7 linked regions of the Homo sapiens genome follow. The protein of the gene in region 1 interacts with the protein of each later gene in a biochemical or structural test. Each region holds a gene or a part of one and is shown in the gene's direction. Other genes may lie near its edges. The genes, in order: SHC1, ERBB4, INPP5D, TEK, ERBB3, PRKCD and DDR1.

What was found.
Region 2: the proteins of SHC1 (region 1) and ERBB4 form a complex in vitro, tested with the Homo sapiens proteins (2 studies listed by BioGRID and IntAct, with this or other methods).
Region 3: the proteins of SHC1 (region 1) and INPP5D form a complex in vitro, tested with the Homo sapiens proteins (2 studies listed by BioGRID and IntAct, with this or other methods).
Region 4: the proteins of SHC1 (region 1) and TEK form a complex in vitro, tested with the Homo sapiens proteins (one study listed by BioGRID).
Region 5: the proteins of SHC1 (region 1) and ERBB3 form a complex in vitro, tested with the Homo sapiens proteins (2 studies listed by BioGRID and IntAct, with this or other methods).
Region 6: the proteins of SHC1 (region 1) and PRKCD form a complex in vitro, tested with the Homo sapiens proteins (one study listed by BioGRID).
Region 7: the proteins of SHC1 (region 1) and DDR1 form a complex in vitro, tested with the Homo sapiens proteins (one study listed by BioGRID).

What each region holds. Positions count from the first base shown.
Region 1 is NC_000001.11:154,964,773-154,967,747, reverse strand, and holds part of SHC1 (SHC-transforming protein 1), read left to right. Parts: coding exon 1-77; intron 78-1,203; coding exon of another isoform or gene 1,204-1,230; coding exon 1,231-1,429; intron 1,430-1,516; coding exon 1,517-1,586; intron 1,587-1,667; coding exon 1,668-1,802; intron 1,803-1,966; coding exon 1,967-2,205; coding exon of another isoform or gene 2,206-2,379; exon of another isoform or gene 2,380-2,462; intron 2,463-2,975. UniProt on the Homo sapiens protein: Signaling adapter that couples activated growth factor receptors to signaling pathways. Participates in a signaling cascade initiated by activated KIT and KITLG/SCF.
Region 2 is NC_000002.12:212,532,303-212,535,802, reverse strand, and holds part of ERBB4 (receptor tyrosine-protein kinase erbB-4 isoform JM-a/CYT-1 precursor), read left to right. Parts: intron 1-3,500. UniProt on the Homo sapiens protein: Tyrosine-protein kinase that plays an essential role as cell surface receptor for neuregulins and EGF family members and regulates development of the heart, the central nervous system and the mammary gland, gene transcription, cell proliferation, differentiation, migration and apoptosis.
Region 3 is NC_000002.12:233,205,873-233,208,403, forward strand, and holds the end of INPP5D (phosphatidylinositol 3,4,5-trisphosphate 5-phosphatase 1), read left to right. Parts: intron 1-833; coding exon 834-836; coding exon of another isoform or gene 837-885; 3' UTR 886-2,031; downstream 2,032-2,531. UniProt on the Homo sapiens protein: Phosphatidylinositol (PtdIns) phosphatase that specifically hydrolyzes the 5-phosphate of phosphatidylinositol-3,4,5-trisphosphate (PtdIns(3,4,5)P3) to produce PtdIns(3,4)P2, thereby negatively regulating the PI3K (phosphoinositide 3-kinase) pathways.
Region 4 is NC_000009.12:27,171,725-27,175,224, forward strand, and holds part of TEK (angiopoietin-1 receptor isoform 1 precursor), read left to right. Parts: intron 1-891; coding exon 892-1,023; intron 1,024-1,497; coding exon 1,498-1,638; intron 1,639-3,500. UniProt on the Homo sapiens protein: Tyrosine-protein kinase that acts as a cell-surface receptor for ANGPT1, ANGPT2 and ANGPT4 and regulates angiogenesis, endothelial cell survival, proliferation, migration, adhesion and cell spreading, reorganization of the actin cytoskeleton, but also maintenance of vascular quiescence.
Region 5 is NC_000012.12:56,086,665-56,090,164, forward strand, and holds part of ERBB3 (receptor tyrosine-protein kinase erbB-3 isoform 1 precursor), read left to right. Parts: intron 1-912; coding exon 913-978; intron 979-1,130; coding exon 1,131-1,249; intron 1,250-1,356; coding exon 1,357-1,498; intron 1,499-1,878; coding exon 1,879-1,992; intron 1,993-2,083; coding exon 2,084-2,204; intron 2,205-3,500. UniProt on the Homo sapiens protein: Tyrosine-protein kinase that plays an essential role as cell surface receptor for neuregulins.
Region 6 is NC_000003.12:53,188,709-53,192,208, forward strand, and holds part of PRKCD (protein kinase C delta type), read left to right. Parts: intron 1-11; coding exon 12-150; intron 151-349; coding exon 350-538; intron 539-1,164; coding exon 1,165-1,293; intron 1,294-3,399; coding exon 3,400-3,500.
Region 7 is NC_000006.12:30,894,519-30,897,587, forward strand, and holds part of DDR1 (epithelial discoidin domain-containing receptor 1 isoform 2 precursor), read left to right. Parts: coding exon 1-153; intron 154-885; coding exon 886-996; intron 997-2,102; coding exon 2,103-2,347; intron 2,348-2,495; coding exon 2,496-2,623; intron 2,624-2,842; coding exon of another isoform or gene 2,843-2,860; coding exon 2,861-3,069. UniProt on the Homo sapiens protein: Tyrosine kinase that functions as a cell surface receptor for fibrillar collagen and regulates cell attachment to the extracellular matrix, remodeling of the extracellular matrix, cell migration, differentiation, survival and cell proliferation.

The sequences.
Region 1 (2,975 bases):
ACCATTGGCCAGGCCTTCGAGTTGCGCTTCAAACAATACCTCAGGAACCCACCCAAACTGGTCACCCCTCATGACAGGTGAGCAGGTGGGGAGAGTGTGGAGCAGCTCTTGGATTAGGATTAGGAAAGGAGGGCTGCTCTTCCTACACTTGAGTTGAGAGGTTCAGGGAGGGAATAACCTGTGTGCCTCTGCTTCCCACTTCCTGCTATTCTTCTGTTTCCTGTGGCCCAGGAGGAAAGACTTTTGAGGCCCTGCTTGCCGCAGGACCAGCTTTTCTTGTTTGCTCATGGTGGAGTTGTAGTCCGGGGCCTCCAAGTTACATCTCTCTCTGGCTAGGTGGGATTTTCTACTCCCATCCCTCTTTCTTGCTCATTTCTCTGCTTGGCATTATGTGTTTTCCTGCCTCTAGAAGCCATCAAGAATTTGGGTTTGGGAGGATATCTCTTTTCCCTGAGATTACAACCTTTCCCACCTCAGGCCTTGAGGGATAAGCAGTGGAGCCAGTAGGGATTGAATATTTAGGAGAGGTTAAAATATTCTGGAGCTGGAGTGCCTCCCCCGGCCCCCCACCCCCCTACATGGTGCTTCCCTTCCTTGTTGGGAGATAGCACAGAGATCAAGAGCAAGAGCATTACTTATTTGAGACAGTCTTGCTCTGTAGCCCAGGCTGGAGTTCAGTGGTACAATCACAGCTCACTGTAGCCTCCATATCCTGGGCTTGAGTGATCCTCCCACCTTAGCCTCCTGAGTAGCTGGGGCTACAGGTGCATGCCACCACACCTGGCTGAGTAGTAGTATTTTTATTCTGGTAGAGATAAGGTCTCGCTATGTTGTCCTGGCTGGTCTTGAACTCCTAGGCTCAAACAACCCTCCCTCCTTGGCCTCTGAAAGTGTTGGGATTATAGGCGTGAGCCATTGCACCTGGCCAAGGGGATGAGCTTTAAAGTCAAACCTGAATTTAAATCTGAGCTCGGCCGCCTTTTAGTTGTGAGACCTTGGGCAGATCTTTTCACCTCTGACCCTCATTTTCCTCATCTGTAAAAGTGGGGAAGGAAACAATACCTACCTTACGGGGTTGCCAGGAGAATGAAATGATTATGTATATAAAACACTCAGCCTCAGGCTTAATCCATAGTAAATACCCAATAGATGGCTGCTGTTCTATTCTGTCCTTCCCTCCTCCTGCCCACCACACATTTACAGCCACAGCTTCACTGTCCTGTCCCTCAGGATGGCTGGCTTTGATGGCTCAGCATGGGATGAGGAGGAGGAAGAGCCACCTGACCATCAGTACTATAATGACTTCCCGGGGAAGGAACCCCCCTTGGGGGGGGTGGTAGACATGAGGCTTCGGGAAGGAGCCGCTCCAGGGGCTGCTCGACCCACTGCACCCAATGCCCAGACCCCCAGCCACTTGGGAGCTACATTGGTAAGTTGCTTGGATGGAGGCGGGCTGGGGCTAGGGTGGGAGTGGTTGGTTAGGGCTTCTGGTCTCACCTTATTTTTATCCCTGCAGCCTGTAGGACAGCCTGTTGGGGGAGATCCAGAAGTCCGCAAACAGATGCCACCTCCACCACCCTGTCCAGGTATGAAGGGAGCCGAGATAGGCAGAGCTGGGGAGTGTTGGAGGCAGGGCTGGGATCACTGTAGAGCCTCCCTTTCCTCAGCAGGCAGAGAGCTTTTTGATGATCCCTCCTATGTCAACGTCCAGAACCTAGACAAGGCCCGGCAAGCAGTGGGTGGTGCTGGGCCCCCCAATCCTGCTATCAATGGCAGTGCACCCCGGGACCTGTTTGACATGAGTGAGTGCTCGTCTCTCTCCTCTCTGCATCCCCACCTTTCTACTTGGTTCTGGCCCTTCTCCTGCCTATCTGCTCTTTCCTTCCTGACTTCCCTTCCCTGAAGTCTGGGTCTTGGGTGTGTGTTGTGCCTGCTACTTCCCCTCACCCTCCCTCTATACTTCCAGAGCCCTTCGAAGATGCTCTTCGCGTGCCTCCACCTCCCCAGTCGGTGTCCATGGCTGAGCAGCTCCGAGGGGAGCCCTGGTTCCATGGGAAGCTGAGCCGGCGGGAGGCTGAGGCACTGCTGCAGCTCAATGGGGACTTCCTGGTACGGGAGAGCACGACCACACCTGGCCAGTATGTGCTCACTGGCTTGCAGAGTGGGCAGCCTAAGCATTTGCTACTGGTGGACCCTGAGGGTGTGGTGAGTGTGGCAGAGGTGTGGGTGAGGGGTGGCAAAAAGGAAGGTACAGTACCCTACAGTGTATCCCTCTTCCTTCCCTCATTGCTTTGTAGACATTCCCGCTGGGCAGCTGTCTATGGGCCTCTCTTGCTCTTTAAAGTGTCTGGCATCTTCCTCCAGAGGCTCATCCCTTAGCCTGAACTATGTTCTTTATAGTCCTGGCACAGGGCCAGGCGTGGTGGCTCACACCTGTAATCCCAGCGCTTTGGGAGGCTGAGGCAGGTGAATCACCTGAGGTCAGGAGTTCGAGACCAGCCTGACCAATATGGTGAAACCCTGTCTCTACTAAAAATACAAAAATTAGCCGGGTGTGGTGGCAGGCACCTGTAGTCCCAGCTACTCAGGAGGCTGAGGCAGGAGAATTGCTTGAATCTGGGATGCAGAGGTTGCAATGAGCTGAGATCACACCACTGCACTCCAGCCTGGGTGACAGAGTGAGACTCTGTCTGAAAAAACAAAACAAAACAAATACAGTCCTGGCCCGTCCTCAAATCCCCAAGCCTTAAGCTTATCAGAGCTAGAAGGCAGTCATCTCATCTGTGCCCCTCTTTTGACAAATAAGGAAACCACCCTGAAGAGGTTGTGATGCCCAATGTCAGATGGTTAGAGGCTAGACACTGCAAGTTTCCTTTTGTAAGAAGATCCAAGGGCTTCTCCAGCTCCCCAGACTCAGGACTCAGACCACTGTGCTTTCTCTTATCTGCACTGCCTCACTGTTCTTCAAAACTTTC
Region 2 (3,500 bases), on another chromosome or scaffold:
CTTTTGCTTGGAAAAAAATTCAGCATTAGAGAGGATGTTTTTTAGAAATTCTAAAGGACTTTGTCTCATTTTCAATTATGCATTTTATTTAGATATATCTAGATATAGCCAAAGTCCCTTTATATGGCAATTATAAAGCCTTTGCTAACCAAAGGAATGGTTCTAAAATTCGTCTTCCTTGTATAATGGAAAATTATCAATATTGCCTTGGTATTGAAGAAAATGTATAGTAGCATTGAGGTGGTACTCTTATATACCTTAGTAGATAAACGATGAACAAGTTCAGTTCCCATTTCTTTTTTGCAGGTAACTCAGTCTTGCTTTTCATTCTATAAAAGTACATATAGCTTTCGTACATATTTAAGATACATCATTATATCTCCAAAATCATGGGGTTATTTTTCATTTGAGAAGAAAAATGTTAATAAAAGTTAAGTGGTGAAAAAGGTGTTAAATATATTTTCAAGAAAGCATCAATTCTCTTTCTTACAAGTGTTTACTGTAAGCACATCTATCGGTACAATGTTTTCTTTTTAATTTGAAATTCTCATATATATATATATAAAAGGGGGCTTTTTAGAAGAAGGTGTTATTTTTTTCTTCACAATATGTCTAAATAAATATCTGTTAGTATAACTGCAAATCGCTTGGAAATACTATAACTGTTCTGTTGTGATGAAATGACTCCAGTTATATCAGTATTCCTTTTTTTTGCTCTTAAACTCAACTGCTTTTATTTATTTTAATCATGTATGCATAGAAAGTGAAATTTTGTTGAAAATCAAGGCACTTACTGCTTTATATATATATTTTCATTTAGTCACTGGAAATGTGTCTTAATTAAGAAATTACATTAGAATATTTATCAGAGCATGAACTTTGTGGAAGATTTATGCATTTTTTATTCTAACCTGAACACAGTAAGTTTGCATTGGCTGATTTTTAGAGTTTGCATTTATTTGATGGAAAATCGTATTTCCTCCTCAAAGTGGATTCAAATATGTAGTATTCATGAGCTTTCATCCCTTTGGTTTTTAAATAGAAGTACTATTTATCATCTGTCTTATGCATTCACCCTTTCTGTTACTATAGATTCTCTCTTTACATCTTAGTATTTATTGAGTTTACATGTGTTAATATATATTTTCCCTTCCGCCACTAAGTATATTGTTTTTGTTTGTGTCTTTCCCAGTAACCTGCCACTCAGCCACTGCAGGAGTCCTCTGAGCCAGTTTTCATTCTTTCTGATAAATCTGATATGGCTGGTTGGCCAGACAATCACAAGCCATTCCATTGCTCAGATTTATTCCTGAAAGAAAATAAAAAGGCATCGATCCAAGATCACTGGCACATCTTAAAAGCCTTGACTCCAAGGCCAAACCTTTCCACAGAGAAGTCCCTCTTACCCTTTTTCTTTCTTTCTTTTCCCCTCTTGACCAAGGAAGGAAGGTGGACCACTGCTATTTAAAAAATGCTAGTGAGGCAATGAATTGTGCTCTTTCTAAGTACTCTTGGAAGCTTGATTAGAGCCACCTTGAGATTAATGGCTATGCACAGTGCATATTTTAGACAATAAATTGAATTAGGATGGCTTAAACATTGCAATGCTTTAAAGCGGTATTATTTTTGTGTTATATCAAGCTGGTTATTAGGAAAAGTTAACATGTTCTTAAAAATAGCCATAAGTTTTGGCTTTATATTATAGTGTTCTGCTACTGTTGGATATCCATGTATAGTTTGTAAGTGCCTAAAACATAAATGAAATAAATGATCAAAACGGATTTTCTGATACCTACAAACTTGTTGGTACTTGCTCTGTTTAATTTTACCAGTTTTGAGAGATACTGCTTTGTTGAGATGCTAATATTTGTACTGAAATTAGTTTTTAGAGGTTCAAGCCTACATCTGTTCTACAGAAATTAATCACCAAGCATATTCCACTGTTATCTTTTACAGTGATCTACTGAGTATCCTGTGCAGGGTAGAATTTAATCATATTAACAACTTTTCTCCAGGTTATATCATTTTAGAGATGCTCTATTATGTTACATTTCACCATATGGAACCAAATTACATGTTTTATCTAATACTCATTTTCTGAAGTATTATAAATATTGGCAGTCAGAGTTAAAACCTTACTTTTTATGATTTCTAATACAGCTATTGACTGGAGTTTTCAGTTTATAATGAAAAATAACCCCTTTTTATGAAAAAATTGTAGGTCAATGTTTCCTGAAACTGTATGTCTTCAACATAATTTGAGGGAGACTTTAATTGCCTATTTTGTGGTTAAATGGGACATGGGACGTAGTCACATTGTTTAAATCAGGATTTCTACCTTGCAGAGACAGTTCTCGAGTTTCTTAATACCTTCAGCAACTCACTGCATCTCTTTGTGACTTGGCTTCTCTGCCTGGGAGAGAAATGCATATAATGCACTATTTCTGCACTGTACAGTTTTATGAAAATAACTTTAAAGTCTTTGATATTGAGATACATTCCACTAAATTGTTTTTATAGATGTAATCTAAATTGCACATGTAATCTAAAACATGTATACCTATATTAAGAAACATAATGTAAACTTTCTAGCAAACTGTCTCTATCAAAAGAGTACCTGTCTAATGAAATAAAGAGCTTATTAACTCAAAGGCATTTGTATTTGAGGGCAATTTCCCCAAAATATTATTTTCAGAATTGTTCTATGGTCTCTTTTATTTTTTCTGAGTTGTTGGTTATTCTGAAATATTTATTAAATAAATTGCCGTATTTTCCAATTCTGTAATCAAGATTTAAGGCCACTTCCTTGTTTTCACACTTGATACTTAAACTAGTGCTTTATATTTATACAAACTTTTCAAGAGAGGAAAGCTGTCCCTTTTACAATATGGAGTTGAAATATGTGGATGTTTTGTTAACTAATTCTAAAGAGGCTATGTAGCATGTAATAATTGTTTTAGAGTTATTTCCATTTTGAATTGTTCTGCAGGCCTGTCACTTTGCACAACTCCAGGGGGCAGCAGCCACATAGACTTTAATAGGAATAGTGCATGCCTTAGCTGTGGGTAGTACAGCAACAGCCTTGCTATTGTGTGATGCTAGCGAATAAAGCACTAAAAGTTAGGAGGTTTGGATTCTGGTCATACAATCATTTGTTATGTGATCTGGGATTAGACTACTTGCTTCTGTCTCAATCGCCTTACCTTTATTAGTGTAGCTAAAAGTCATGCCTAAGCTATTAACATCTTGAATGTTTTTAATAATTCAATTAATTAGAAATGGAAAGTTTAGACTTTTTAGAAAAAAAGTTTATTGGTTTTTAATTATTTTTGTAAGTGGACCTCTTTTTTGTTGTTGTTGTTCCAAGTGAAGTCATAGGCATAGCCCTAGTTTCTAAAACAGCTGAAAGGGTAAAATAAAAAGAGAGCTGTGTAGTTAAGCTGCAGGGAGGAGGCAGCTTTGAGGCCCCTGCCGTTGACATTCCCTCACTTTCCTTTCAC
Region 3 (2,531 bases), on another chromosome or scaffold:
GTTCAAGACCAGCCTAACCAATATGGTGAAACCCTGTCTCTATTAAAAATACAAAAATTAGCTGGGCATTGTGGTGTGCACCTGTAATCCCAACTACTCGGGAGGCTGAGACAGGAGAATTGCTTGAACCCAGGAGGCGGAGGTTGCAGTGAACCGAGATCGCAACACTGCACTCCAGCCTGGGCGACAGAGTGAGACTCCATCTCAAAAAAGAGAACAGTCAGGCTATGTTGGATTTGAATCCCAGCCCTCCCACCTCCTGGCTCTGTGCCTTGAGCCTCAGTTTACCCATCTGTAAAAAGGGGCTGTTAATAGTACCTACCTCATAGACTTAGAAGGAGAATTGCATTGTAGGCTATTATGTATTATTACCATGTATTATCATCTATATAGAAATTATATATTTATATTTATGTATTTACATTGATATCCATTACATATCATTTCATATATATATACTATACATATTACATATGTGTATATATTTTATATATATATATGGTACGTACCTGGGTGTGGTGCCATGCACCTGTAGTCCCAGCTACTGGGGAGGCTGAGGCATGAGGCTAGCTGGAACCCAAGAATTCAAGGCTGCAGTGAGCTATGATTGCACCACTGCACTCCAGACTAGGCAACAGAGTAAGACCCCATTTCTAAAAAACAATTTTTTTAAATAAGCAGGTAAAGTACTTAGAGCAGTGAGTGCTGGCTCTTCTCAGCTACACGTTAAAGGAAGCCTGGCCTAGCCCACAGCATGCAGGGACCTGGGCCACTTAGTTCAACATGGCCTGGTGAGAATGAGCCCTGACAGCCCTTCTGTTCTTGTCCCACAGTGAAGCCCTCAGTGAGCTGCCACTGAGTCGGGAGCCCAGAGGAACGGCGTGAAGCCACTGGACCCTCTCCCGGGACCTCCTGCTGGCTCCTCCTGCCCAGCTTCCTATGCAAGGCTTTGTGTTTTCAGGAAAGGGCCTAGCTTCTGTGTGGCCCACAGAGTTCACTGCCTGTGAGACTTAGCACCAAGTGCTGAGGCTGGAAGAAAAACGCACACCAGACGGGCAACAAACAGTCTGGGTCCCCAGCTCGCTCTTGGTACTTGGGACCCCAGTGCCTCGTTGAGGGCGCCATTCTGAAGAAAGGAACTGCAGCGCCGATTTGAGGGTGGAGATATAGATAATAATAATATTAATAATAATAATGGCCACATGGATCGAACACTCATGATGTGCCAAGTGCTGTGCTAAGTGCTTTACGAACATTCGTCATATCAGGATGACCTCGAGAGCTGAGGCTCTAGCCACCTAAAACCACGTGCCCAAACCCACCAGTTTAAAACGGTGTGTGTTCGGAGGGGTGAAAGCATTAAGAAGCCCAGTGCCCTCCTGGAGTGAGACAAGGGCTCGGCCTTAAGGAGCTGAAGAGTCTGGGTAGCTTGTTTAGGGTACAAGAAGCCTGTTCTGTCCAGCTTCAGTGACACAAGCTGCTTTAGCTAAAGTCCCGCGGGTTCCGGCATGGCTAGGCTGAGAGCAGGGATCTACCTGGCTTCTCAGTTCTTTGGTTGGAAGGAGCAGGAAATCAGCTCCTATTCTCCAGTGGAGAGATCTGGCCTCAGCTTGGGCTAGAGATGCCAAGGCCTGTGCCAGGTTCCCTGTGCCCTCCTCGAGGTGGGCAGCCATCACCAGCCACAGTTAAGCCAAGCCCCCCAACATGTATTCCATCGTGCTGGTAGAAGAGTCTTTGCTGTTGCTCCCGAAAGCCGTGCTCTCCAGCCTGGCTGCCAGGGAGGGTGGGCCTCTTGGTTCCAGGCTCTTGAAATAGTGCAGCCTTTTCTTCCTATCTCTGTGGCTTTCAGCTCTGCTTCCTTGGTTATTAGGAGAATAGATGGGTGATGTCTTTCCTTATGTTGCTTTTTCAACATAGCAGAATTAATGTAGGGAGCTAAATCCAGTGGTGTGTGTGAATGCAGAAGGGAATGCACCCCACATTCCCATGATGGAAGTCTGCGTAACCAATAAATTGTGCCTTTCTCACTCAGCTGTGTGTGTGGCGTTTTTCCTGACATTCGGAGCCATAGATATCCTTCTAGATGGCAGGGCCTGCACAGGGCACAACTGAGGCAGTTAAGGGTTCATGGTGGTGATGGATGGTGTTGCCCTGACCAGATGGGACACCATAGAGCCAGTTTGAAGCTGGTCCTGGACTAGGAACAGGAGTAAACCGCACCCCTTCCTTCCTTCCACCCACACATCTTCCTGGCACTCCAAGCACCCTGCGGCCACCCAGAGGCCACGAGCATCCCCTCCAAACCTGCTGTCCTGCAGCCCACAAGTTCCTCCCAGCTTTTATAAGTTTTCACCACTTAAGCTGCAGTGACAAAAAAAACACGTCAACACTCCCCAGGTCATGGGTTCCCAGGTCAGGGAGTAGACCCCCGCCCAGAGGCACAGTGCGGGCCACTTCCACGGCGCCTCTGCCCCACCTTGGGCTGCCTGGCCTCTGCTTCTGCTCACAGACACCAGGCCTGGGCTCCAGGC
Region 4 (3,500 bases), on another chromosome or scaffold:
AAAATATAATTTATGATGATAGCAAAACTGCAATATTCAGCTTCTAGTAGCTTGCCTCACAGCTACCTTTACATGAAGTTTCTGTGGACTTGGGAGAAGCAAGTGACATCCCCTTTTATTCCACTACTCAGGAGAGTCTGAATGTCAAGGAAGCAATTTGCCTTTATTTCATTTAGCTAGTTTCTCTGGAGTCTGATATAACACCATGTACTAGGTGTACTCAGAGGGTAAATGGGGTACATCTTCTAGGAAGGTCAGACATACCTATACATGTTGATATATAGTTGTTTGAGATAGGAAAACCAAAGTGTTTTTCCTAATCTCTGCTCTCACTGAACACAACACTTCTGACACCAATGTGCACAGATTACTACGCCACTTCTAGAATTTCTCATTCAGTAGGTCGTGGTTGGGTGGGATCTGGGGTTTGCATTTCTAACAGATTCCCAGATGATGGGGATGCTACTGGTCAGAGACCACACTTTGAAAACCACAGCTCCAGCCTGTAACCATACCTGCAGCTCCCTGGACATGCCATGCTGTCTTCCCATGCCTTGTCTTTGCCTGGAAGACACTCTCCAGCCTTATCTTCTTTGCTACTTAGTTGGTCCTGCAGATTCAGCTTGCATACCATATCCTCTGGGAAGCCTTCCTTTATGCCCTCTTCTATCCACCAGACAGAGTTAGGTACTCCTTGTCTTTGTTTCTGTCGCGATTTCCTGTTTACATGTCTGTCTCCCATATTAGATGATGAGCTTTTAGAGAGCAGAGCCTGTATTTTATCTTTATTCACCATTGTCCACTGAATGACTGACACACAGTAGGTGCTCAATAAAGATGTGTTGAGCGAATGCGCTCTACTCACCACAGCCTTGTTTTCCTTAACAAAAGGATGTGAAGCCCAGAAGTGGGGACCTGAATGCAACCATCTCTGTACTGCTTGTATGAACAATGGTGTCTGCCATGAAGATACTGGAGAATGCATTTGCCCTCCTGGGTTTATGGGAAGGACGTGTGAGAAGGGTAAGTAAAGAGACTTGATAAGTAAGCTGTGGATTTAAAAAGCCATCGTTGCTGGATCTAGAATTTTAGATCTCGACACAGATGGGAATGGACGCTAAATGGCCTCTGTTAGGTCAGATGGTACCTGTGTGTGAATTAGAAAAAGGTGCCTTTTCCTAAAGGTTCTTTAATGCCAACCACTGGAAAGTTATAATAAATATACAGATCCGTGATGTTTACAGTGTGAATGCTGCCCCCTAGGTTTGTGCACTGCACAAACCTGCATGATTGTGAGTGATGTCCCTGATGTCTGCTCTGTGGGGCAGTTTCATTATCAGTAAAATGGGCCATAAGGGTATGTTCATCCTACCATGCCACAGCTGAGATTTGACTGTTTCCCATATTCACTAGACTAGGAGAAATGAATCTAAAGAATTATGTATTTCAAGGGGTTGCATATTTGACTCTGAATCATCTTTTCTTTTCCTCCCAAAGCTTGTGAACTGCACACGTTTGGCAGAACTTGTAAAGAAAGGTGCAGTGGACAAGAGGGATGCAAGTCTTATGTGTTCTGTCTCCCTGACCCCTATGGGTGTTCCTGTGCCACAGGCTGGAAGGGTCTGCAGTGCAATGAAGGTATGCACCAATCACACCCTTGGACAGAGGATGTTCTAGCAGGTATATAAAGGAGATCCAGTTTGCTGTCAATCACAACATCGGATATACCTGGACTGCTTAGCTACCCACTACTGGACAACAGGATTTTGAATCATGGATGTTTACATCCAATGTTAATTATACTTTCACAGTAAAAATCTAGACCGCATAGAAAGTACTTCTCATAACTATCATCTGGGGATCTTTACTAAAGCACGGATTCTGATTTGGTAGGCATGGACTGGGGCCCGAGGTTCTGCATTTCTAACAGGCTCCCAAGTAGTTCCGATGTTACTGGTTTTCAGACCATGCTTTGAGTAGGAAGACCATAGAAGACTTGTTTTTTTTTTTTGGTTTTTTTTTTTTTTTTTTTTCAGTGAATCATAAAATCACAGCTTTAGCCAGGCATGGTAGCACATGCCTGTTGTCCCAGTTATTCAGGAGGCTGAGGCAGGAGGATCCCTTGAGCCCAGGAGTTTGAAGCTGCAGTGAGCTATGATTGCACCACTACACTCCAGCCTGGGCAACAGAGTGAGACCTCGTTTAAAAAAAAAAAAATCAAAATCAGAGCTTTTATGTCAGATCCAGACAGGATTTGGGGCTCAAAAATTGAAGAAGTTAAAATCTTACCTGCCGTGGACCTTATGCAAGTAGTACTAACATCATCTACTCAGAGTCCCTCTGCCCTTTGTAAAATAAGCTTTCCCATTTGACCAGGCTCTGTGGAGTGCATCTGACATCCACTTTTCAGTATGCATTTCACATCTACTGTTGCATAGTAGCTCAACATGAACCTGCAGACAAATGTGACAGAACCTCCCTAATGTATATTAATACTGTGAATTAGCCAGAGCTCAAAGGCTTTTCAGTGTTTATCTCACAAAGTCAGCTTTTCCCATATCCGGCACTAAAGGTAGCTACGATGGGGTCCCAGCAACTTGATAACAATGCTCCAGGGCAGAGCAGTTCAGTAGAAATATAAGCCATCCACATATAGAATTTAAAATTTTCTAGTGTCCACATTAAAAAAGTGAGGAGAAATAGGTGAAATAATTTTGATCTATTAACCCAATATGTTAAAAACATTATCAGTTCAACATGTAATCAATAGAAAAAAGTATTAATGAGATATTTTACATTCCCTTTTTCATAGTAAGTCTTTGAAATTTCAGTTTGGACTAGCTATATTTTAAGAGTTCCATAGCCACACGTGGCTAACTGTACTGGACAGCATAGCTCCAGGGGCTTGGAGGAGGAGGACAAAGAGGAGAGTTACACAAAAGTAAGCTTCAGCCACCTGCAATACCTCATTCAGTTCCCTCTAAATGCTATGTCTGCCCCCCGGAACATGCAGTGAGCCACAGCAGTGGAGAAATCCCATCTGGCCTCTGAAGTGTGTATGTTAAGGTAAAAGGTGACTCCAGGCAGGGGGCAGATCCCTTGTATTTTAAAAAAAATTAAAATGTTACGCAAACTATGAACACTTTGCTAGGACCCAGGAAGCGGTGCATGCCAGCAGTCTCTAGAACATAAACTTCATCAGCTTTGTAGTGAATGTGTCTCTGGGCCCAGGTTTTTTTGTTTTTTTTTTAATTCTTTTTATTATTATTATTATTATTATACTGTAAGTTTTAGGGTACATGTGCACAATGTGCAGGTTAGTTACATATGTATACATGTGCCATGCTGGTGTGCTGCACCCATCAACTCGTCATTTAGCATTAGGTATATCTCCTAATGCTATCCCTCCCCCCTCCCCCCACCCCACAACAGTCCCCAGAGTGTGATGTTCCCCTTCCTGTGTTCATGTGTTCTCACTGTTCAATTCCCATCTATGAGTG
Region 5 (3,500 bases), on another chromosome or scaffold:
CCGTGATCAAGATTGCTCCCCAGTCCCACCAAACCAGAGTGACTCCCTTCTTTCCATCATCCTTACATTCCTGATCTGAACCCGCCTCCCCAGTGAACAAACACCTCAGGTCCCTGACTCAGCAGCCCACCAGGGCAGACCATTCCAGTCTCCTGGAATCTAAACCACAGAGGAGGTGTTTCAAGAAAAGGAGCAGGCCGAGCATGGTGGCTCATGCCTATAATCCTGGCACTTTGGGAAGCCAAGGTGGGAGGATCGCTTGAGCCCAGGAGTCCAAGACCAGCCTGAGTAACATAGCAAAAAATCTACAAAAAATTAAAAAAATCAGACAGGCGTAGTGGCTCGCACCTGTAATCCCGGCTACTCAGGAGGCTGAGGCAGAGGATTGCTTGAGCCCAGGAGGCTGCAGCTGCAGTGAGCTGTGATTGTGCCATTGTACTCTAGCCTGGGCAACAGAGTGAGACCCTGTCTCAAAAAAAAAAAAAAAAAATCCCTGAGTACTAAGCAGGGAAGCCAGATCTTTAGACTCCACATCTGTTACTCGTTCCACTAGAATATACTCCCATTTCCTTGGAGCCCACCTTCCCCTGACCATTCACATGCATATATTCCTGCATATATTCAGTTTGCCCAGGAGGAACTAAGTTCCTGGGTTGGGACTAGGACTAAGGTTGGCATTTGCCCCAGTCCCTCCCCTTCAGCTGCCCAGTGGGTGGTGTGGAGGCGTGGCCGCGCCCCTTGTTGACAGGTCCACTTGAGCCCAGCCCTGCTCTCCAAGGGCAGGGAGGGACACAGCCCTGGCTTTTTGCTTCCCGGGATTGAGGTGCCTGTGTACTGACATCATACCCCGTTGATTAAAACAAGCCTTTCTTAGCCCTGATGGCCCCTTGTGTTGCCTTCCTTCCCAACCAGGTCCCCCCTGTCATGAGGTTTGCAAGGGGCGATGCTGGGGTCCTGGATCAGAAGACTGCCAGACATGTGGGTTTGAAATTCCCTCCAAAAACTTCACTCATACGCTTTCATATCCCTTCCTCCCCAAGCCTGGGTCAACACTGTGGGGGAGGCATGAGCAGTGGCCTCAGAATTCAGTCCTAGGAGCCCTAACAGCCATGCTTTCTCTCCTTCCATAGTGACCAAGACCATCTGTGCTCCTCAGTGTAATGGTCACTGCTTTGGGCCCAACCCCAACCAGTGCTGCCATGATGAGTGTGCCGGGGGCTGCTCAGGCCCTCAGGACACAGACTGCTTTGTATGTACCCTTTCCATTGCCTGGGTTCTGAAATTGGGATGTGGCCTTTGAGGAGGAGGTAGGGGTACACACGTAACATAAATCTGATGAGCCTCCTTTTTTCCCAGGCCTGCCGGCACTTCAATGACAGTGGAGCCTGTGTACCTCGCTGTCCACAGCCTCTTGTCTACAACAAGCTAACTTTCCAGCTGGAACCCAATCCCCACACCAAGTATCAGTATGGAGGAGTTTGTGTAGCCAGCTGTCCCCGTAAGTGTCTGAGGGGAAGGAACAATGATCAACAATAGTAGATCCAAGATTTTAGACAAAATTGTGGAAGGGAAAAAGAATCCAGTTGGTGATAAATAGGGAGATTGGTGAATGGTTATGATCATCTAACCACTCCAGTGAGTGACCCTTACGTCCAGTCCTCCCATGACTTCAGCTATCACCCTTACTTCTGCTCCTTGTAGCAACAAATAGTGAAGAGACTTTTGAATCTATAGGGCAGCACTTAAGGGATCTAGGGTGGCAGATGGGGACAAATCCAGTGCAGAGCTGGAGGGAGCCTAGGCCCAGAGCAAGGGTTCCATTGGTAGCTGGTGATGTTCCTCCCTCATCTCTAATGGTGTCCTCCTCCTCTTCCCTAGATAACTTTGTGGTGGATCAAACATCCTGTGTCAGGGCCTGTCCTCCTGACAAGATGGAAGTAGATAAAAATGGGCTCAAGATGTGTGAGCCTTGTGGGGGACTATGTCCCAAAGGTGGGTAGGAGATGGTAAGAAGTTGTAAAGAGACAGCCTTTCCTCTGAGCCTGCGCAGACCACCCCCACTGAACCTCTCTTACATTTGCAGCCTGTGAGGGAACAGGCTCTGGGAGCCGCTTCCAGACTGTGGACTCGAGCAACATTGATGGATTTGTGAACTGCACCAAGATCCTGGGCAACCTGGACTTTCTGATCACCGGCCTCAATGGGTTAGAGATCCTGCCTTCCCTCCTTAGACCCCAGCCCACGCACCCCTCACAGTTCATTTCATTGGCCAAAACTTTCCTATGTGGAGCTGACTAGGAATCAAAGTCATAAAATTCTAGCCTGTTACAAAGGACCTGAAAGAATGCTTAACACATCCTCCATCCAGGCCTTCGGTCCCCTCAGGAACATCTTTGAGCAATTCAATATCGCCCTGCCAAGGAACAAGGGACAGGAACAACATATCCTCCTTCTTAAAGTTTTCTTTTTTATTCTTTTTTCTTTTTTGAGATAGGGTCTTGCTCTGTCACCTAGGCTGGAGTGCAGTGGCGTGATCTCGACTCACTGTAGCCTCGACCTCCTGGGCTCAAGTGATCCCAAGTAGCTGGGACTATAGGCACACACCATCATACTTGACTAATTTTTTTGTATTTTTTTGTAGAGACAGGGTCTTGCTATGTTGCCCAGGCTGATCTCGAACTCCTGTGCTCAAGCAATCCTCCCATCTTGGCCTCCCAAAGTGCTAGGGATCACAGCACCCAACCTCCTTCTTAAAGTTTTGTAAAAGTTCTTCCTTAGATTTGGATAAAAATCTGTCTCCAGGCTGGGCCCGGTGGCTCATGCCTATAATCCCAGCACTTTGGGAGGCCGAGGTGGGCGGATTACGAGGTCAGATCGAGACCATCCTGGCTAACATGGTGAAATGCCATCTCTACTAAAAACACAAAAATTAGCTGGGTGTGGTGGTGCACATGCCTGTAATCCCAGCTACTCAGGAGGCTGAGGCACGAGAATCACTTGAACCCAGGAGGCGGAAATTGCAGTGAACCGAGATTACACCACCGCACTCCAGCCTGGCGACAGAGCGAGACTCTTTCTCAAAAAAAAAAAAGAAAAGAAAAGAAAATTCTGTCTCCCCATGACTTTTAGCTGTTTTCACTCATTCTGCTCCTTGGAGCAAAAAGAACAAAGGGACTTTCTAGTCTATAGGACAGCATTTAAAATGTGTGTGTGTGTGTAAAAAAAACCCACTATGACCACCTGTTTTTTTTTTTCCTTTAATTTTTTATTTTGACATAATTTTAGATCTACACTAAAGTTGCAAGAATGGTATAAAATTCCCCATATACTTTTTTTTTTTTTTTAAGACAAAGTCTCACTCTGTTCCCCAGGCTAGAGTGCAGTGGTGCAATCTTGGCTCACTGCAACCTCCGCCTCCTCTGCCTCCCGGGTTCAAGCAATTCTCCTGCCTCAGTCTCCTGAGTAGCTGGAATTATAGGTGTGTGCCATCATGCCCGGCT
Region 6 (3,500 bases), on another chromosome or scaffold:
CCTGTCCTTAGGGACCTCAAACTGGACAATGTGCTGCTGGACCGGGATGGCCACATCAAGATTGCCGACTTTGGGATGTGCAAAGAGAACATATTCGGGGAGAGCCGGGCCAGCACCTTCTGCGGCACCCCTGACTATATCGCCCCTGAGGTGAGCCGATACCCTTCCAGCCCCCCGCTCAGTCAGGCACCTTGCCTCCCCACGGTGGGCCAGGGAAGGATTCCCAAGGGCAGTGATGTCCAAGCCAAAGCCCATAGGCTGAGGCGGCCTGGCTAGGCTTCGTGCCCAGGGGCCCCTCTCAGCCTCAGCACCTCAGCTCCTGCTGACCTGCTGCTCTCCCCACCGCCAGATCCTACAGGGCCTGAAGTACACATTCTCTGTGGACTGGTGGTCTTTCGGGGTCCTTCTGTACGAGATGCTCATTGGCCAGTCCCCCTTCCATGGTGATGATGAGGATGAACTCTTCGAGTCCATCCGTGTGGACACGCCACATTATCCCCGCTGGATCACCAAGGAGTCCAAGGACATCCTGGAGAAGGTGGAGGCCCTGGGCTGGGCTGGGCTGGTCTGGGCTGGGCTGGGGCAGGGGCTGGCAGACACTGGGCTTTGGGTGAGGAGCTTCCTGTCTCTGGAATGGCAGCCTCAGTGGTGCTGCAGTCCTAACATACGGGGTATTGCTCTCTCACCATGTTCCCAGGAACTCCTGTCTGAGTCCTGTGCATAGAATCAGCCTGACATGGTGACTAAGGGCCCAGGGTCAGGAGACAGACCCGAGGCCAAATGCTGGCTCTGCCTGGGACTAGCTGGTCACTTAACCTCTCAGAGTTTGTCTCCTTATCTGTAAAATGGGGCTATGAGCAGACTTGACTCACAGAGTTGTTGGGAAGAAAATAGAAACATATGATGCTCAGCTGTGGGCCAGGCAGATAGTAAATAATAAAAAGTTCCACCAGCAGAGTCGCAGATGTCCAGCCCAGAGCCTGTCATCTCCGGGGGAGCTGGGAGCACTGCAGGCCAGAGTGGCCTCCCTCAGCCCCACCGTTCCCCAGGCTGACTGGGGCTGGGGCAAGCCTGGCTTTGCATCCCTGGGCCTGCTGGGGATTTGCTGAAGCTCCAATTTCCCATGGCCCTTGGGTGCTAACCAGGGTCCCTGCTGGGTTGCAGCTCTTTGAAAGGGAACCAACCAAGAGGCTGGGAGTGACCGGAAACATCAAAATCCACCCCTTCTTCAAGACCATAAACTGGACTCTGCTGGAAAAGCGGAGGTTGGAGCCACCTTTCAGGCCCAAAGTGGTATGTGATCCTGCCCTGTGCTGCCTTCAGGCTGAGCTACTCCTCTCCTGCCCTCCCTCTCTCCTGCATCATTCACACGCTTTCCACCTCTCCCTTCTTCCAGCAATCTCCATAGCATGTTCAGTCACAGCCGCTGCCCTTGTATTCTCATCCTCTCCCTCCTGACTCAGTCATTCAGCACACACTGGGGACTGTGGATCCCACTGTATGCAGAGGACCCTGTTTTGGGAAATAGAGTTAAGACCTCACTTTATCGCTCCATTCAATCCATTTTCCAATACATATGGGGAATCCTGAGTCCCTGTTGAATGCAGAGCACAGTGCTGGGCTGCACAGCAAAGTGGGAGATGCAGTCCCAGAACCGGAGGAGCTCTCAGCTAGTTGGAGAGATAAGAAACTTGCACACCTATGACAATTTGTGATACGAGATGACAGTATAAGAGATGCCCCAGGACACATGATCCGTTGCTATTGAGTGGGTCTGTCAGCAGGAACCCAGGTGGCAGAGAAGAGGGTGGGTCTGAGAGGCCCCGTTGGAAGAAGTGAGACAAGGGACAGCTGGGAGGCATTCCAGGTGGAAGAGGGGCTGGTTCACTCACAGGCCCAGAATCTACAGGGCTACCAAGGAACCAGCCTGAGAGCAGAGGCAGGTGGGGCCACTAAGAAATTTGGGGCTGTGTGGCCCCTCTGTGACCACAGTTCTTCCTTCCCACTCCCCTTCTGTCCTTTGATTCCCCTCCTCCACCAGGGCACACAGTTCCCACTGGGCAGCCTGTGTAATGCGCCCCACATTTGTGCTTTGAGGCTACAGAGCACTTCCCCTACACCAGGGACCTCAAACTCAGACGTGTCCTGGCTGAGCATGTAACTGACAGGCTAGGCCAGCTGCAAGAAAATCACACAGCCTGCTTTCAGTCTCACTTTTGATAGATTTCCTTCTCCGCACTAAGAAACACAAAGCAGGTGTGATGTACCCCTTGTCAGTGGGGCAGGGGCTGTCCAGGGGGCTCTTAGCACCAAGAGTGGGCAGGAAGTGGGCCCAGGGCTGCTTTAATCTGCCAGTTTTCAAAAGAAGCTGGAAATCTGGATTTTTAGGTTGCATTGCTCAATTTTAAAATATAAGTTCAGGCCGGGCACAGTGGCCCACACCAGCACTTTGGGAGGCTGAGGCAGGCAGATCACCTGAGGTCAGGAGTTCGAGACCAGCCTGGCCAACATGGTGAAACCCCGTCTCTACTACAAAAAATACAAAAAAAATTAGCCGGGTACGGTGGTGCACACCTGTAATCCCAGCTACTCAGGAGGCTGAGGCAGGAGAATCGCTTGAACCCAGGAGGTGGAGGTTGCAGTGAGCCGAGATCGTGCCACTGCACTCCAGCCTGGGCAAGAGAGTGAGACTCCATCTCTAAATGAATAAATAAATAAAAATAAATAAATAAAATATAGGTTCAAATTCCATTAAAACCCAGTACAAGCCGAAATGATTGTACTTGCCAGTTCAGTTTGGCTGAAGGGCCACCAGCTTGCGGTCTTTCTATATTACCATCCCATCATATCCTCAGGAGCAGAGAATCAGCAAATTTCTCCTGTAAACAGCCTGATAGTATATATTTTAGGCTTTTCAGGCTTGATGGTCTCAAAGCAGGCATAGACAGTATGTCAACAAATGGGCATGGTTGTGTATTACAAAAGCTTTATTTATGGAAAGTGAAATTTGAATTTCACCTAATTTTCATGTCATGAAATATTTTTCTTTTGATTTTTTTTCCAACCATTTAAAAATGTGAAAGCCATTCTTAGCTTGTGGTCCCCACAAAAACAGGTGGTAAGTGAGCCTCCCTGGGCTGTGATTCGGTGGTCTCTGAGCAAGAGGCTACCACCTCTCCTAACCCAGGCCCAGAGCTCCCTGGTCACTTTCCTCATCCTCTTGGGGAAATGGCAGCCTCCTTCCCATGGGGCTCCTTTCAGGCTGCTAGGGGAGGCTCTGTCTTCTGTTCTGGGTGAGGACAGCTCTGGCCTGGCCCAGCCCTGCAGGGACTCCAGCCTGGGGTGTCTGGAGGGCCATTCCCTAGGTCCTGTTCGCTCACCCCTGCCCTCTGCTTGTAGAAGTCACCCAGAGACTACAGTAACTTTGACCAGGAGTTCCTGAACGAGAAGGCGCGCCTCTCCTACAGCGACAAGAACCTCATCGACTCCATGGACCAGTC
Region 7 (3,069 bases), on another chromosome or scaffold:
TGTTGGAAGAGGAGCTGACGGTTCACCTCTCTGTCCCTGGGGACACTATCCTCATCAACAACCGCCCAGGTCCTAGAGAGCCACCCCCGTACCAGGAGCCCCGGCCTCGTGGGAATCCGCCCCACTCCGCTCCCTGTGTCCCCAATGGCTCTGGTAAGACCTGCCTTGTTCCAGTCGCACCTCTGTCCTCTCTGCTGTTTTCTTATTGTATCCCTTTCCCATTCTCTTTTTTTCCTGTCTTCCCCAGTTTCCACTTGTTTTCTTCTTTCTGTGCCCCTGGTTACTGTCTATATCACTCTTTGTCCCTACCATGTAGTCTCTCTCAAGAGTTCCCCATGTATTACCCATAGTCCCCCGTGGTGCTATCTTGTCTGTGTCCCACAGACATCTCTCTATCTTTGTTGTACCCTCTCATTGTGTCTCCCTGGCCCCTTTGCTTTGTATTAGACTCACCATGTTTGTTCCTTCATCTATCCTCCATCACCCATCCTTCCATCCATAGTCATACATCCTTGCATCCATCCATCAATCTTCCATCATCTGTCTTTCTATCTATATTCATAAATCTATTCATCCATCCATCCACCCACCCATATCCATCATCCATCTATCCATCTATATTCACACATCCATCTTTCCATCTGTTATCCATCCATCCAACAAAACATCTGTTTACCATCCATCCATCTATTCATACGTCCCATCTGTCCATGCATTCATTATCCAGCCAGCCGTCCGTCACTCTGCAGATCCTTGTTTTATCCTGTCTGTCTCTTAATGCAATCATCCCATCAGCCCTGGTCTTGCCCTATTCAAGGTCTCCCTGTCTGTCTAGCCTTGAGTCTCATCCCTTCCCCGTGTTTCCCCTCCTCCTTCTCCCGACAGCGTTGCTGCTCTCCAATCCAGCCTACCGCCTCCTTCTGGCCACTTACGCCCGTCCCCCTCGAGGCCCGGGCCCCCCCACACCCGCCTGGGCCAAACCCACCAACACCCAGGGTAAGCCCCTCTGCCCCTGGGCTCCGCCAGGCTCCCCATACCTCTACTGGGGCAGGGAAAAGCCCTCACACCTTGCACTTCCTCCTCTCCCCACTGTGGCCTATTCTGCTCTCCTGAGCTCCCAAGGAGGAAGCTCTTGTGCCCTTAGCTCATCTCTGCTGCTGCTTGCTCTTTTTTAAGGTCCCCCCCTTGAGCTGAGGAGTAGAAAGCTTACTGGTCCCCAGCTCTTCTCCCTCCTCCTCTTCCACGCCATCTCTTCAGCTCTCCAGAGCTAGACAGGAGGTTGCTGTGGTGGCCCCAGACTATAGTAACTCCTCCTTTATTCTCCACTCTCTCTAGAGCTGCGAGGAGGAGGGCTCTCACCCCGGGCGCTTGCCCTTTCCCTCACATGTGTCCTCTCTCTGCAGTCCCAGAGGTGAAGGCTCATGCCCCAACCCTTTCCATCTGCCCCTCTTCTCCTCAGTGTTGCCTTCTCATTGTGGCCCCTTCCCCAGGGCTAAGAGGGGACAGCTCTGCTTCCTCTCCTGTCTGTAGACAACTTGTGTTGGGGCTGTGAGCAGCTGTTACCCTCCCTCCTCTCTGTGTGCCTCTGTCTCTGCTTGTTGTTGAGCTTGGTGTGTTGGGTTGAAAGGGTTGGGAGGGCTTGGCCCCAGGGGGAGCCAGGCTGAAAGCCACGGGAGAGCAGCTAAGTGAAGGGGAGGGAGCTGTGGTGAACGGGACAAGGGTTTGGAAGGTGGAGGGTGCCTGGATGCTGGGACCATCCTGAGGCGGGAGAATTCCTGGGGAGGAATTCTTCTTCCAGCCAAGATTTATCTCACAGTCTCTTGAGAGACCCTAGGGAGGCCCTAAAAGAGTAAGACTTTATGACAGTTTTGCTCAACCATATTCATTGCCTTGAAAAGCTCTGGAATAGCTAACTCTCGTCCCATGCCAGTGTCTTCCTGGTTTGAGGTTGGCGCATGGAATACTGGGAAGATACAGCATAGACCCAGTCTCTCACTCAACCGGGAGACACAGGGCCCTCCGGGAGGCTGAGGTGTGGGGAACTATAGCTCTTGGGCTGTTCCTGATGCCTCGTCCTGTCTTCTTTCCCCTCACCCCTGCAGCCTACAGTGGGGACTATATGGAGCCTGAGAAGCCAGGCGCCCCGCTTCTGCCCCCACCTCCCCAGAACAGCGTCCCCCATTATGCCGAGGCTGACATTGTTACCCTGCAGGGCGTCACCGGGGGCAACACCTATGCTGTGCCTGCACTGCCCCCAGGGGCAGTCGGGGATGGGCCCCCCAGAGTGGATTTCCCTCGATCTCGACTCCGCTTCAAGGAGAAGCTTGGCGAGGGCCAGTTTGGGGAGGTAAGGAGGGTGCCTACCCAGTGTCTGGCCCTATTGTGTGCTCTGATGCCATGCCTGCGCATCCCCCTAGCCAGGAACCTTAGTCATTTGTAACCGTGTTAATCCGTTTGACCCTGTGACCGCCTAGCAAACGAACTTCTTTCTCCAGGTGCACCTGTGTGAGGTCGACAGCCCTCAAGATCTGGTTAGTCTTGATTTCCCCCTTAATGTGCGTAAGGGACACCCTTTGCTGGTAGCTGTCAAGATCTTACGGCCAGATGCCACCAAGAATGCCAGGTGAGGACCAGGGATGGCATCTGGAAGAAGGGAGGGGAGGCCGTGAAGAGTGGGGAGCCATCTAGAGAGAACAATGGCAGAGCCCAACAGAGGGGTGGCATCTCTGGGAGGGGATTTACATGTACGCTGGGGGTGGGGACGCCTGGTCTGCCTGAGGTGGGGCAGGGGGGTGGGGGCGCGGGGGAAGGTGCAGGCCGCCCACTCGGCATTCCTCTTCAGCTTCTCCTTGTTCTCCAGGAATGATTTCCTGAAAGAGGTGAAGATCATGTCGAGGCTCAAGGACCCAAACATCATTCGGCTGCTGGGCGTGTGTGTGCAGGACGACCCCCTCTGCATGATTACTGACTACATGGAGAACGGCGACCTCAACCAGTTCCTCAGTGCCCACCAGCTGGAGGACAAGGCAGCCGAGGGGGCCCCTGGGGACGGGCAGGCTGCGCAGGGGC